4 linked regions of the Homo sapiens genome follow. The protein of the gene in region 1 interacts with the protein of each later gene in a biochemical or structural test. Each region holds a gene or a part of one and is shown in the gene's direction. Other genes may lie near its edges.

What was found. Proteins that work in one complex are often made in the same cells at the same time.
Region 2: the proteins of SIRPA (region 1) and GNL1 form a complex in vitro, tested with the Homo sapiens proteins (one large-scale study listed by BioGRID).
Region 3: the proteins of SIRPA (region 1) and NEXN form a complex in vitro, tested with the Homo sapiens proteins (one large-scale study listed by BioGRID).
Region 4: the proteins of SIRPA (region 1) and EIF5B form a complex in vitro, tested with the Homo sapiens proteins (one large-scale study listed by BioGRID).

Annotation. Positions count from the first base shown.
Region 1 is NC_000020.11:1,922,907-1,926,406, forward strand, and holds part of SIRPA (tyrosine-protein phosphatase non-receptor type substrate 1 isoform 1 precursor), read left to right. Parts: intron 1-1,857; coding exon 1,858-1,971; intron 1,972-3,500. UniProt on the Homo sapiens protein: Immunoglobulin-like cell surface receptor for CD47. Acts as docking protein and induces translocation of PTPN6, PTPN11 and other binding partners from the cytosol to the plasma membrane.
Region 2 is NC_000006.12:30,546,490-30,549,989, reverse strand, and holds part of GNL1 (guanine nucleotide-binding protein-like 1), read left to right. Parts: intron 1-2,459; coding exon 2,460-2,638; intron 2,639-2,715; coding exon 2,716-2,878; intron 2,879-3,153; coding exon 3,154-3,294; intron 3,295-3,500. UniProt on the Homo sapiens protein: Possible regulatory or functional link with the histocompatibility cluster.
Region 3 is NC_000001.11:77,930,124-77,933,623, forward strand, and holds part of NEXN (nexilin), read left to right. Parts: intron 1-3,158; coding exon 3,159-3,356; intron 3,357-3,500. UniProt on the Homo sapiens protein: Involved in regulating cell migration through association with the actin cytoskeleton. Has an essential role in the maintenance of Z line and sarcomere integrity.
Region 4 is NC_000002.12:99,343,889-99,347,388, forward strand, and holds part of EIF5B (eukaryotic translation initiation factor 5B), read left to right. Parts: intron 1-3,500. UniProt on the Homo sapiens protein: Plays a role in translation initiation.

The DNA of each region.
Region 1 (3,500 bases):
GTTCATGGTGTCCTGCCTCTTGCCTTCTTCACCTGACAGTTGTCATGCTCCCCATTCCTCACTGGCCCAGCCCCTCTTCCCTACTCTTTCTAGCCCCTGCCTCATCTCCCTGGCTGCCATTGGGAGCCTGCCCCACTGGAAGCCAGGGTGGAGTCATTCAGGGTGTTTGCAGCTTGTCTCACATACAGTCAGTGCTTCAGTGAACATCCTTGTGCATGTTCCATCCCACATGTGACTATTTCTGTGTGATTGCCCAAGGAACACTTTAGGCCAAAATGCATACTCATGTAAGGAGGAGATAATGCTGTCGCTCCCCTGAGAGAGTGTGAGGGTGTCAAGGTATCATTTTCTCAGCCCTTGCAACGTGGTGTTGGTGTACATCTCTTTTGTTTTCAAATGGTGGCACCTGATTGGCATTTCAGTGCAGCCATGGAATATTTCATCACCTGTTATCAATGTGGCTGATGCCCTGTACATAGTAGAACCCTTGAATGGATTAGAATGGAAGCCATTTCTGTCCTTCATGCACCCTTCAGGGAAGCTCTCAAAGACAGCCTTGGGGCTGTGTCAAAGTGGCCCTTTGGTTTCACCAATGCCAGGTTTTCTTAGGATGTGTAGGGCATCGGCCAATGCTGGGTTTTCATAGTACGTGTGGAGCATTGGCCAATGCCGGGTTTTCCTAGGACGTGTAGGGCATCGGCCAATGCCAGGTTTTCATGGGATGTGTAGGGCATTGGGCAATGCTAGGTTTTCATGGGATGTGTAGGGCATTGGGCAATGCCAGGTTTTCATGGGATGTGTAGGGCATTGGGAGACAGGATGTGTGGCTTTCCACGCCAGCTATGTTGCATACTTGGCTGTGTGACCTTGGACAAGTCAGTGCCTCTCTCTGGGCCTCCACTTGCTTCTGGCTGTGTTGAAGGGGATGAGCTTCATGACCCCTCAGCTCTGAGTCTCAGCTGGTAGGGGCCATGATTATCTTGCTCAGCATTGTAGCTTCAGGGCCTGACCACAGTAAGCACTCAGTAAATGCTTTTTGAGTGAAAGAGGATAAAAGAGTCAGTTGGTTGGCTGGTTGGTTGGTTGGTTGGTTGGTTGGTTGGTTGGTTGGTTGGTTACATAATCCTTAGTTAGCCAATGAGGTAGAGATGACTGTTGGCCCCAGTAACAGAAGAAGCAGCCAGGGTTTGGAGGGAGGCTTAACTGACTTGTCCAGGGTCACACAGCTACTTAGTAGCATAGATTTGAAAGCACTTTTCTGTGGCTTAGAGCCCTGCTTCTGATGAACCACTGTGTTCTAGTCTATGACCCCCTTACCTGTGCTGTGGGCAGTCAAGCCTCCATTGTATTTTCAAGAGTCCTGGTTCAGAGCCCCTATGCTAACTCCTGAGCCCAGTGTGCATGGCCCAGGTGCTGGGCACAGACCGGTCGTCAGCCCCTGAGCTGTGCAGAGCCTGCTGGCCGCACTGCCCTTCTTCCAGCTGCTGATTCAGTTTCCAGTGGATCTGGGGTGCCCTCATGACCGCTCTGTGGTTCACTCCAGATGAGAAGGAACGTTTCTGTTCCTCAGGAGTGAGATTTCTGCCTGTATCCTGCAGCAGGGGTTCCTCCGTAGCTGTCAGCTACAAATATATTCCCCCCTGGCACCTCAGCATGGTTTTTGTGCTGTTCATGGATGAGTCTCGTGGGCAAGTGTGTACAGACCCATGAGTGTGCCCATGTGGCTCGAGACATCTAAGAAGGTCCAGCCAGATGTTCTCAGTTAATGATGCCTGCTTAGTGGTGAAAAGCAGTGGTGGGTTTGGTTTTCTGTTTTTAATCTGCATACGTGAAGCCTCTATTCCATGTGGTCCCTAGAGAACACTGGATCTAATGAACGGAACATCTATATTGTGGTGGGTGTGGTGTGCACCTTGCTGGTGGCCCTACTGATGGCGGCCCTCTACCTCGTCCGAATCAGACAGAAGAAAGGTGGGTGCATTCCCCTCTTCCTCCCTAAGGGTTTGTCCCTGGACTGTCCTCGGAGGGAGACGCCATTAGGTGCTTTGGGTTAAGGACATCAGCTTCTGCCAGTAGCAAGAAGTCCAGAGGTAGTGGTGCTAGGGCTGGGGCAGTGGCCTCACCATGTTAGAGTCTGGGTGGGTCACTCTGTGGCTTCCCCCTCATGGTTACAAGATGTTCATCACTGCCCCAGGCCCCGTGTCCTCAAGGGGCCACTACTGAGCAAGGGAGCTGCCAGCCTGGGAAGAGAGGAGGCAGGGACTCTTCTTACCTGTCTCAGGGAGGACATCGTCTTTCCCAGGAGCCTCCCGGCAGACTTCTGCTTTCCTGGTACAAGTCTAGGTTACATGACCAGTCCCTGGACAGGAGGCCAGAGGGAATGGAGATAATAGCGCCACCATTTGATTGGGAGGACTTAACAAGTGATTGCATGGGAAATGTTAGGGAAGTAACCTGGCACACAAGTGCTCAATGTATGTCAGCCCTGATTATTACCCGTATTGTATGTGAGCCCAGAAATATGAGCCACCTCCCTAGAAAGCCCCCTCACAGGGCAAGGTGCATAGCCTTTGACTGCACAGCAGGAGGGCACAGGGTCAAACCCAGGACACCGCTTCCCCTTGTTTGTGTGCACGTGTTACGTGTGTGTCTGTGTGTGTGTGCTGGTTGTTGGGAGGGTTGGTTGTTGCTGTGGCAGGGCCTCTGACTTTGAAGTCAGACAAACCAGGGTTCCAGACCCTGGTTATATACTGTAAACAATCAATTTGGCCTCTACAAGCCTCAGTTTCCCCATCTGTAAAATGGGTTTAGCAACGCCTGTCTTGGAGAAGTTACAAGATCCAAATAAGCCCATGTGAAATAACGGGTCTGACACATTCTAGGATCGCCATAAATACATGTTCTCTTTCCCACTCTTGGAGAAGACAATTTTAAGCTGGTATTTCTGCAACCTTTTTTTATTACAAGAGATAGAAATACATTTCACATCTCAACCCAACACATACACACACCCTTTGTATATAAAATTAAAACTGATATTTTCTTTTTTGTCATATTCTTTTTTCTGTTTAAAATGCTGGTTGTGACCCACCGCCTCCAAAGGGACAAGTGCTGTCCCGAGCTGCCTTTCTGTGGCCTGGCACAGCTGAGCTTGGTTGGGCACATTGTACACTAATCACGCATCCCTTCAGTAGCTCCTTCACCTCTGCCTCCCAAGTTTCCCTCCCTCCTGGGCTGGCTCTGAGATACTGGCCAAGCCTGATGCTTCTGTCTGGGAGGGTTGGAGTCAGGCCCTGCTTCTCCAGAATCTGCAAGACGTCCCACCAAGACGTCTACCCAATGGGTTCCCTAAAGTTCCTGGAGAGCCCCACACAGGGAGGACTCCTCCTTGGATGGGGAAGCAGGTCCCTTCCCCACCAAGGGTGACAGCCCATCCCATGGGATGAAGCATTCATAGCAGCCGATAGTGAAATCCTGGCCATCCTTTCTGAGTCTCAGGC
Region 2 (3,500 bases), on another chromosome or scaffold:
TAGCCGTGTGTGGTGGTGCGTGCCTGTAGTCCCAGATACTCAGGAGGGTGAGGCAGGAGAATTGCTTGAATCCTGGAGGCAGAGGTTACGGTGAGCCAAGATCATACCACTGCACTCCAGCCTGGGTGACAGAGCAAGACTTCGTCAAAAAAAAAAAAAAAAAAGCCATGGAATTGGATGAGATGTAGGAGAGAAAGGAAATAGTTGGAGAAGAGGAGGTCAAGGACTGAGCCTTAGGACAAGCCAGCATTTAGTTGGGCAAAGGACAGTGAGAAGGAGGAAAACCAAGGGAGCGTCCCAGAAGTCAAATGAAGAAGGTGTTTGAAGAGGAAAGGAGGAATCAGCTGTGTCAACTGTTGCTGACAGGCCAAATGAGAGAACAGAGAGCTGCTCAGCAGGCTTGGCAATGTGAAGATCCGTGGTTTCAGTGGGGTGGAGAAAGCCAAACTGGAGTAGGCCCATGAGAGAAGGTGCAACAACTTCACATAACATTGTGTGAAAAGAGTCTGACCCAATAGCATCCATACTGCACAATTTCAGTTCTATCAAGTTTGAAAGCTGCAAAATTAAGCTGCATTGTTGAGAGATACACAGGTCATAAACTAAAGAGAAATGTAAGGAGTTGATTTCCTTAAAAGGATAAAGCTTGCATGTATAGAGGGAGAGGATTATGATCAAGAAGGATGAGTGGCGGCCGGTATGGTGGCTCATCCCTGTAATCCTAGCACTTTGGGAGGCTGAGGCAGGCGCATTACTTGAGGTCAGGAGTTTGAGACCAGCCTGGCCAACATGGCAAAACCCTATCTCTACTAAAAATACAAAAAGTTAGCCAGGTGTGGAGCCGCACGCCTGTGGTCTCAGCTACTCAGGAGGTTGAGGCACGAGAATCGCTTGAACCTGGGAGGATGAGGTTGTAGTGAGCCAACATCGCACCACTGCACTCCAGCCCGGGTGAGGGAGTGAGACTCTGTCTCAAAAACAAAAACAAAAAAAACAAGGACAGATGGAACATGTTGTCACACATTGGGTGGTATGGGGTTCATCAGGCTGCACATGTATGTTCTGTGCATTTTTTTGTATGTTGTAGTTTACAGTTACAAAGAAGATAGCAGGAAGAAATGGTGAAAAAAGTAGGTAAGTCTTTTAAGGAGTTTTCCTGCAAAGCGGACAGAGAACTAGGTCTGGTGGTGGTCGTCAAAGGAGAACTTTTTTCTCCCTCCTTCCCTCCCTTCCTCCTAGATACTTGCATGTGTTGTAAAGAGTGAGCACAGTGGTACATCTTTTCTTAGCCACAGTCAGCTGCCCAGGAGCAGTGCTGAATGGGCAGAGCTGGATTTTACAGGGTTGGGATTTTGCCAGGTGAGTAAGATAGAGGGGAGAAGTGGGACCAGGGAGTTCCAGGTCTGTGAACGGGCCTGGCTGAGGAGCTGGATCATGAAATCTGAGTCAAGTAAGAAGGAAATTGAGGACACGAGTTGGGTATTGCATAGTGTTACTGTGTTAAGGTCAGGGGTCAAAGACTTACTGGCATGGAGTAACCAGAGTAAGTGAGCTGGAAAGATGAGTTGTCAGGGCAGAGAGGGGTGCTTGGAATTGAGGCTTTGGAGCTGTGAAGTGACAAGATGCAGGTATTACCATGGGAGTGGGCAGCTGAGGTGGGGTAAAGGAGATGCTCTGTGGAAGGGAGATGAAGGCACTGAAGTCAGCCAGAAACACAAAAACTGGTGGTGGTGAGTGAGCAGAGTGGCAGTGAGCCCCAAGGCTTCCAGTTTTCTCCTTGGACAAGTCATCGTAATTATTATTATTATTTTTTGAGATGGAGTTTCCCTCTTATTGCCCAGGCTGGAGTGCAATGGTGCAATCTCAGCTCACTGCAACCTCCGCCTCCTGGGTTCAAGTGGTTCTCCTGCCTCAGCCTCCCAAGTAGCTGCAATTACAGGCGCCCACCACCACGCCCAGCTAATTTTTGTATTTTTAGTAGAGATGGGGTTTCACCATGTTGGCCAGGCTGGTCTTGAAGTCCTGACCTCAGGTGATCCACCCGCCTTGGCCTCCCAAAGTAATCACGCTGGGATTACAAGCGTGAGCCACTGTGCCAGGCCAAGTCATAGTAATTATGAGATGTGGATCACTGGTACTGGGTACTTACTGTACTGCAGGCACTGACCCACACAAGTTGTATTGGTTATCTCATTTAATCCTGACCACCCTGAGGTAGGGAGGTGTCCACACTGTAAAATGAAGAAACAGAGGCTCAGAAAGTTAGTTGCCCTGACATCACAAAGCTGGTAAGTGGAAGGGCCAGGATTTAACCCTGGCAGCCCAGAGCGTGATTTGTATTCTGCAATACCATTTCCTTAATTTCTGAGCCTTAGTTCCCCTTTTACCTATAGGTATAGCACCAAGTCCCATCACAGAGTAGAAACCTGTTAAACGTTAATTTTCCTTGCCTTCCTCAGGTTTCCCTAATGTGGGAAAGTCCTCGCTGATCAATGGGCTGGTGGGGCGGAAAGTCGTGAGTGTCTCCAGAACCCCGGGCCATACCCGATACTTTCAGACCTACTTTCTTACCCCCTCTGTGAAGCTCTGTGACTGCCCAGGCCTCATCTTCCCATCTCTTCTGCCTAGGCAGTTGCAGGTATGACGGGGAGGGTGGGTAAGGGAAAGAGAGAAGGTGGGACATTGAGGAAAGTACTGAGTGCTCATTTCCCTCAGGTTCTGGCAGGGATCTACCCTATCGCCCAGATCCAGGAGCCCTACACTGCTGTGGGCTACCTGGCCTCCCGAATTCCCGTGCAGGCCCTGCTCCACCTGCGCCACCCAGAGGCTGAGGACCCCTCAGCGGAACACCCCTGGTGTGCCTGGGACATCTGTGAAGGTGAGTTCCATGTGCCTGGCTTCGCCCCACCTGGTTTCAGCTGCTCTTCCTTACCTGCCTCGCCTTTTACCCTTCCCTGTCTCCTTTCCTCTCCTCAGAGATTCTGCCATTGATGAAGCTGCTGTCCACTCACCCCTAGATTTTTGTTGCATAGCCAGTAAGATCTCTGGCCTGGAATGTTTTGGGGAAAACTGGAAGGACTGTGTTATGGGAGTGGGAGTATAACTGGTACCTGGTTAATGCTTTCCCTTTCCATTATTCTTTTCTTCCTCCAGCCTGGGCAGAGAAACGTGGTTACAAGACAGCCAAGGCGGCTCGGAATGATGTGTACAGAGCAGCCAACAGTCTCTTGCGGCTGGCAGTGGACGGCCGCCTCAGCCTGTGTTTTCATCCCCCAGGCTACAGTGAACAGAAAGGTCAGAGCCCAGATATTCTTCCCCAGCCCCCTGCTATAGCGTAGGTAAAAGGGTGTGGGCTTTGTGGCCAGAGAGAGGGTCAAACCTGGATTCTGTACCTGTTGGCTAGCTCTGTTACTTAACATCTGTGATATTTTCCTGATCTGCAAACTGAGGGTAATAATTGACCCTTAGCATAGTGATTGTAAAGATTGAAGTTGATGTGC
Region 3 (3,500 bases), on another chromosome or scaffold:
CACTGCATCTCCTTCTTGAAACACTGTAATTAGCTTTGGTGATATCGTAACCTGGTTTTCTTCCTCTGTATGGGTGAGCATCACACACATATGTCCAAGTGTTTATTTGGCTTTATTGCCCACACAGATACTCAAATCAGAAACGTGGAAGCCTGAAACACTTCCATCTTCTTATTCATGCCTGATGTCCAACCAGTCACTAAGTCTCGTTTATTCTACCTCCTAAATCACTATGAAATCTGTCAGTTTTCCCCCCATTTTCACCGCCACTACTATAATCCAAGTTACTGTTACAACTTGCCTGGGGCCAACTCCTCATTAACTTGCTTTCTTACCTGTAACCTATTCTTTCCTGTAAGGCCAGGAGTGATCTTTAAAAAGAAAGAAATTTTGATTGTGTTTTGTTACTGTTTTGCTTAATATTTCCCCACTTTTCTTAAGCAAAAATCCAAAAACTTCTAAAACAAATTTCTTTATAGTCTTGCTCTTGTATATTGCTCTCGTTTCATTTCTTGATTCTTCCTGAATCTGCTCTTTGTTCCAAATATGCTGAATTTGTTTGTATTTCTTCAAAGTGAGACTCAGCCTTCACACTGTCTGAAAGATGTCCCTCACTCCTTTCCCTATGCTCTGCTAACTCCAATTCATAACTTTCCATTTCCTCTGGAAAGCCTTTCCTGATAATAAACACCTTCCATGAATTCTTACAGCATTTAGTACTCTTCTATCATAGCGCTAATCCTGTATTGTTACCACTTATGGCTGTCTTTTCCACTCCATGAGGCCAAGACTGTTCATCAAACATGTGGCACAATGCTTAGCGTAGCAGACCTCCAATAAATGTTGATGGAACAAGTGATATTGAAATCTTACGTGCAGTAGGTAATCCCTGATTCATAAATGGTTTCTACATAGAAGTCCTACAGACGTTGTGAATGCACTTAATTTTTGGAGAATAAGCAGGTTTAGAAGCGGTAGAAGAAGCCGGGCGCGGTGGCTCACGCCTGTAATCCCAGCACTTTGGGAGGCCGAGGCGGGCGGATCACGAGGTCAGGAGATCGAGACCATCCTGGCTAACATGTTGAAACCCCGTCTCTACTAAAAATACAAAAAAAAAAAAAAAAAAAAAAAAAAAAAAAAATTAGCCGGGCGTGTTGGCGGGCACCTGTAGTCCCAGCTACTCAGAGGCTGAGGCAGGAGAATCGCATGAACCTGGGAGGCGGAGCTTGCAGTGAGCCAAGATCTCGCCACTGCACTCCAGCCTGGGGGACAGAGTGAGACTCCGTCTCAAAAAAAAAAAAAAAAAAAAAAAAAAAAAGAAGCGGTAGAAGAGAAGTAACTGTGAAGATTACTAGACCTAGTCCTTGGGGCAGATTTGTAGGCCAATACTGCCTTTTTACCATGATTCACTAGCGGAAAAAATGCAGGCGAGAAAACTGCATTAAAACAAAACCAAGTTTCCTAAAGACATTTCTAAAGAGAAGAGAGAAAACCTTCCTCTTACATTTATATTGTTTTCTTATCCACAAATAAGTATTGTAATTTATCCAGGAATAAGTATTGTAATTTCATACCATAGCTTAGTTCATGCATATGTAAAATTTAAAAATTTCAGGCAATCTTTGAATTGTAAACCACTTAAACATTGTTTCTGAGTTGAAATAGTTCTGTGGTAAAGCCTGGATTACCTTGATAAAACTTGGAGCAAATGAATAATACCCCTTGCCTCTCTCATTCCCCTGTGTGTATTTCAACCACAGAGTCACAGTTCAGGCCAGAGGGTTATGTTATACCGCGCCCGGCCTATAATCTTTTGTTTTTTTTGAGATGGAGTCTCGCTGTCACCCAGGCTGGAGTACAATGGTGCAATCTCGGCTCACTGCAACTTCCACCTCCTGGGTTCACGTGATTCTCCTGCCTCAGCCTCCCCAGTAGCTGGGATTACAGGCGCCCACCACCACACCTGGCTAATTTTTGTATTTTTAGTAGAGACGGGGTTTCACCATGTTAGTCAGGCTGGTCTCGAACTCCTGACCTCATGATCCACCTGCCTTGGCCTCCCAAAGTGCTGGGATTACAGGCATGAGCCACTGTGCCCGGCCTATAATCTTATTAGAAATATTTTGAAGTTTGAATCCCAGCTTTGCCACATAGTATTTGTGTTGACTTTAGACAATTACTTTTCAGTGCCTCAGTTTCTTTCTCTGTAAAATGAGGATATTAGTAACTACTTCATAGGGTCATAGGATTAAATAAATTAATACATTTTACATGTATTAATACACTTTACGTGCTTATAACTGCACTTGGCAGCTCCAAGTATTAACTATTATTATTTCTTTAAAATTAGCCAGACAGCAAATAAACAATAAACTCATAGCACTAAGAATGATTTTTGCCTGATTATGAAGAGATCATGATGGGTTATCTAATTCATTCAGACAAAATCATGATTAACTTAAATGCTTTAATTACCAACCTGGGGAGTCGTTTCAATCCAATTAAAAAATGTTCTCAAATTAGGAAATCTTAATGTCTAATTTAAAGTACTCATGGTATGAATAAATTATTTCTTTGTCTTCACTGTAATGGAGAATAGATGGTTACCATTTCCTTCATAACCACAAAATACCTCGGTCTTACATTTTCTAATAATTCTTCCCTTTTATTTATTTATTTTTGAACACTGTGTTGAGACTTCCTTGTTTACTGTTAAGTCCCCTTGTTTTTTGTTCAATGTGAAACCTATTTAAGAAATCTGGCCGGGTGCGTGGCTCACGCCTGTAATCCCAGCACTTTGGGAGGCCAAGGCAGACGGATCACCTGTCGGGAGTTCGAGACCAGCCTGACCAACATGGAGAAACCCCGTCTCTACTAAAAATACAAAATTAGCCGGGCGTGGTGGCGCATGCCTGTAATCCCAGCTACTTGGGAGGCTGAGGCAGGAGAATCGCTTGAATCTGGGAGGCAGAGGTTGTAGTGAGCTGAGATCACATCATTGCACTCCAGCCTGGGCAATAAGAGTGAAACTCCATCTCAAAAAACAAAAACAAAAACTAAAAACAAACAAAAAAAAGAAATCCCAGTTTCTTCAAGAAATAGTCCCTTTTTAGTATGTGTAATTCTGGCCAGAGTGATAAAATAATTATTTTAAATAGGTAGTAGATGATGACTCCCCAGAGATGTATAAGACAATCTCTCAAGAATTTCTTACACCGGGAAAACTGGAAATTAATTTTGAAGAATTATTAAAACAAAAAATGGAAGAAGAAAAACGACGAACAGAGGAGGAACGGAAGCATAAGCTAGAAATGGAGAAACAAGAATTTGAACAACTGAGACAGGAAATGGGAGAGGTAAGATTTTAAGAAATATCTATATTCCCCATATTTATTAAGCTAAATATTTTACTTATATCACCTTATAATAACTTTGTATTATTATTCACCTTTAGGATAGTTGACATAGTATTATGAGGTGCTTACATGGTACAGGCGTCT
Region 4 (3,500 bases), on another chromosome or scaffold:
GTTGTATGTGGTATGATGTAGGGGTTCATCTGCATTCTTTTTTTTTTTGAGACGGAGTCTCGCTCTGTCGCCTAGGCTGGAGTGCAGTGGCGCAATCTCAGCTCACTGCAAGCTCCGCCTCCCGGGTTCATGCCATTCTCCTGCCTCAGCCTCCCGAGTAGCTGGGACCACAGGCACCTGCTACCACGCCTGGCTAGTTTTTTTGTATTTTTAGTAGAGACGGGGTTTCACCATGTTAGCCAGGATGGGTCTCGATCTCCTGACCTCGTTATCCGCCCGCCTCGGCCTCCTGAAGTGCTGGGATTATAGGCGTGAGCCACCGCACCCGGCCTGCATTCTTTTATATGTGGATATCTAGTTGTCCTAATACCATTTGTTGAAGAGAAGATTTCTTTCCCTATTGAAAGGTTCTGGCACCCTTGTCAGATCATTAGATGCTAGATATATGGATTTATTTCCGGACTTTAAGTTTTATTTCTTTGGTCTGTATGTCTGTGTCAGTGTTGCCACCACAGTTTGTTGTTGTTGTTGTTGTTGTTGTTGTTGTTTCTGGGTTTTTTTTTTTTGAGACGAAGTCTCACTCTGTCACCCAGGCTGGAGTACAGTGGTGTGATCTCTGCTCACTGCAACCTCCGTCTCCTGGGTTCAAGGGATTCTTCTGCCTCAGCCTCCGGAGTAGCTGGGATTTTAGGTGTGCGCCACCAGGCCCGGCTAATATTTGTGTTTCTAGTAGAGACAGGGTCTCACCATGTTGGCCAGGCTGGTCTCAAACTCTTGACTTCAAATGATCCACCTGCTTCAGCTTCCCAAAGTACTGGGATTATAGATGTGAGCCACTGCATCCAGCCGGCACCACAGTTTTGATTACTGTGGTGTGAATTTCCTTAGATGAAAAATTTCAAACACATACAAAAGTAGAATAGTCTAATGAACAAACATGTGTCCATCACCCAGGTTCAAATTCATTCATAAATCTCATTTCATATGTATTCTGCCCCCTCCTTTCTTTTCTCCATTATCTTGATACAACCTCAGACATTTGTAAATATTTCAAGAAATTATATAATGTATTATAAGAAACATTTATATCTTAAATATAAATTTTTAGAAGTGGTACATTTCATTCATTTGGAAAATTCACATACAATGGAATCGTTGTCTGTGTTGTCAGATAAATGAAATGTCATTGTACTTTTTCAGAGGCATTTAAACTAGCGTTTCAATTTATTGCTTCAGAAAATTCCATTTGGAAGTTTTATGATCAAAAGTACAGTAATTATTATAGTGTTAGACGTGTTTTTTATTAAACTGCTGTGTTGAAACTGGTTAGCCTTGCCTGTTGTATGAGAGTCGTGATTGCCACTCCAGAATAGGACTTTTTCCTTATTTATTAGTGCCTATTTGAAATGTCTAACATGCGACCGGGCATGGTGGTGGCTCGTGCCTGTAATTGCAGAACTTTGGGAGGCCATGGCGGGTGGATCAGTTGAGCGTAGGAGTTGGAGACCAGCCTGGCCAACATAGCAAAACCCCGTCTCTACTAAAAATACAAAAAATTAGCCAGGTGTGGTGGTGCATGCCTATAATCCCAGCTACTTGGGAGGCTGAGGCATAAGAATTGCTTGAACCCGGGAGGTGGAGGTTGCAGTGAGCCAGGATTGCACCACTGCGCTCCAGCCTGGGCAATGGAGTGAGACTGTCTCAAAAAAAAAAAAAAAAAAAAGGAATGTCTAACATGCCTTTCTGGTTGCCACTTGTAGAACATAGGTAGGTGGGCGGGGTGCGGTGGCTCATGTCTGTAATCCCAGCACTTTGGGAGGCTGAAGCAGAAGGATTGCTTGAGGCCAGGAGTTTAAGACCAGCCCGTGCAACGTGGGGAGACCCCATCTCTACCCCCTAAAAAAAATAGCTGAGTGTGGTGGTGTGTGCGTGTGGTCTCAGCTACTCAGGAGGCTGAGGTGGGAGGATTGCTGGAGCCTTGGGAGGTCAAGGCTGCAGTGAGCCATGTTTGTGCCACTGCACTTCAGCCTGGGTGACAGAGCTAGACCCTGTCTCAAAAAAAAAAAAAAAATGTGGTGAATTGGGAATACAAAAGGGAGTTTGCTGTTCTCAAAGGGAGTTACGTTTTAACATAGCAAATAGGCATATGCACAGATAATACAGAGTGAAGTGCTGAAGGGAGAAAATGGAGTATGAGAGTACCACCCTCGAGATTTCACATTTGCCTCTTAAAGTTATTGTTTATGCATCTTTAAAATCCTTTTCTAATTAAGTTTGCCATCAAGAGAGCGTGCAGATTGGAAGGAATGGGAGTATGCTGTGTGTTTCTGTGTCTCTAGAGTACCAAGGGTGACCATGAGGAATATTTGAGATCTTCAGTTGCTCCTGTATTGCCAATAATTTTGTACACAGGTGCAGCCAGACCATTCTAATGATGGTGTTCACCAAATTGGTTATTCAGAAATCTGGTCTTGAGAGTGGTTGTCTACATAAAACTTTTTGTTAAAATTTATTAGTAATTATTAGTTTGTTAATATTAATGATTTATTAATATTAGAGTGCCAGGCACTATACAAGTTAGGTGGGGAAAATCCTTTAACAGTGATTAAGGATCAGAGTTAACTTCTATGGAGTACAGAGACTGAGTTTGCTTTGAGCACTTACCATGTGATTAGTTATTTTAGAACATAAGTTGTATCTCTTTTTTTTTTTTTTTTTTTTTTTTTTTGAGAAGGTGTCTCAAGCAATCTCAGCTCACTGCAAGCTCCACCTCCCGGGTTGATGCCATTCTCCTGCCTCAGCCTCTCGAGTAGCTGGCACTACAGGCACCCGCCACCACGCCCAGATAATTTTTTGTATTTTTAGTAGAGACGGGGTTTCATCGCGTTAGCCAGGATGGTCTCAATCTCCTGACCTTGTGATCCACCCGCCTCGGCCTCCCAAAGTGCTGGGATTACAGGTGTGAGCCACTGCGCCTGGCCCATATAAGTTGTATCTTAAGGTGTTTATTGAGAATGTGGATCTGAATTTTTATCAATATTATATATATCTGCAGACATAATCCTAAATATAAACTTGTATCTCTGTAATTATGAAACCCAAAATATTCTTTTTTTATTATTATTTTATTTTATTGAGACAGAATCCCACCCTGTCGCCCAGGCTGGAGTGCAGTGGTCTGATCATAGCTCAGTGCAGCCTTGATCTCCTGGGCTTAAGTGACCCTCCCACCTCAGCCTCCTGAGTATCTGGGACTACAGACGCATGCCACCACACCCAGCTAATTTTTTTGATTTTTAGTAGAGATGAGGTCTTGGTTTATTGCCCAGGCTGGTTTTGAACTCCTGAACTCAAGTGATGTTCCTGCCTTGGCCTCCCAAAGTGTTGGGATTACAGGCATGAGCCACTGTGCCAGGCCCCCAAATAGTCTTATATCAAATAGTAACAAATATAAAATTTTGTAAAGTTCCAATCTGCAGTATTGATTTGAAAGATGATGC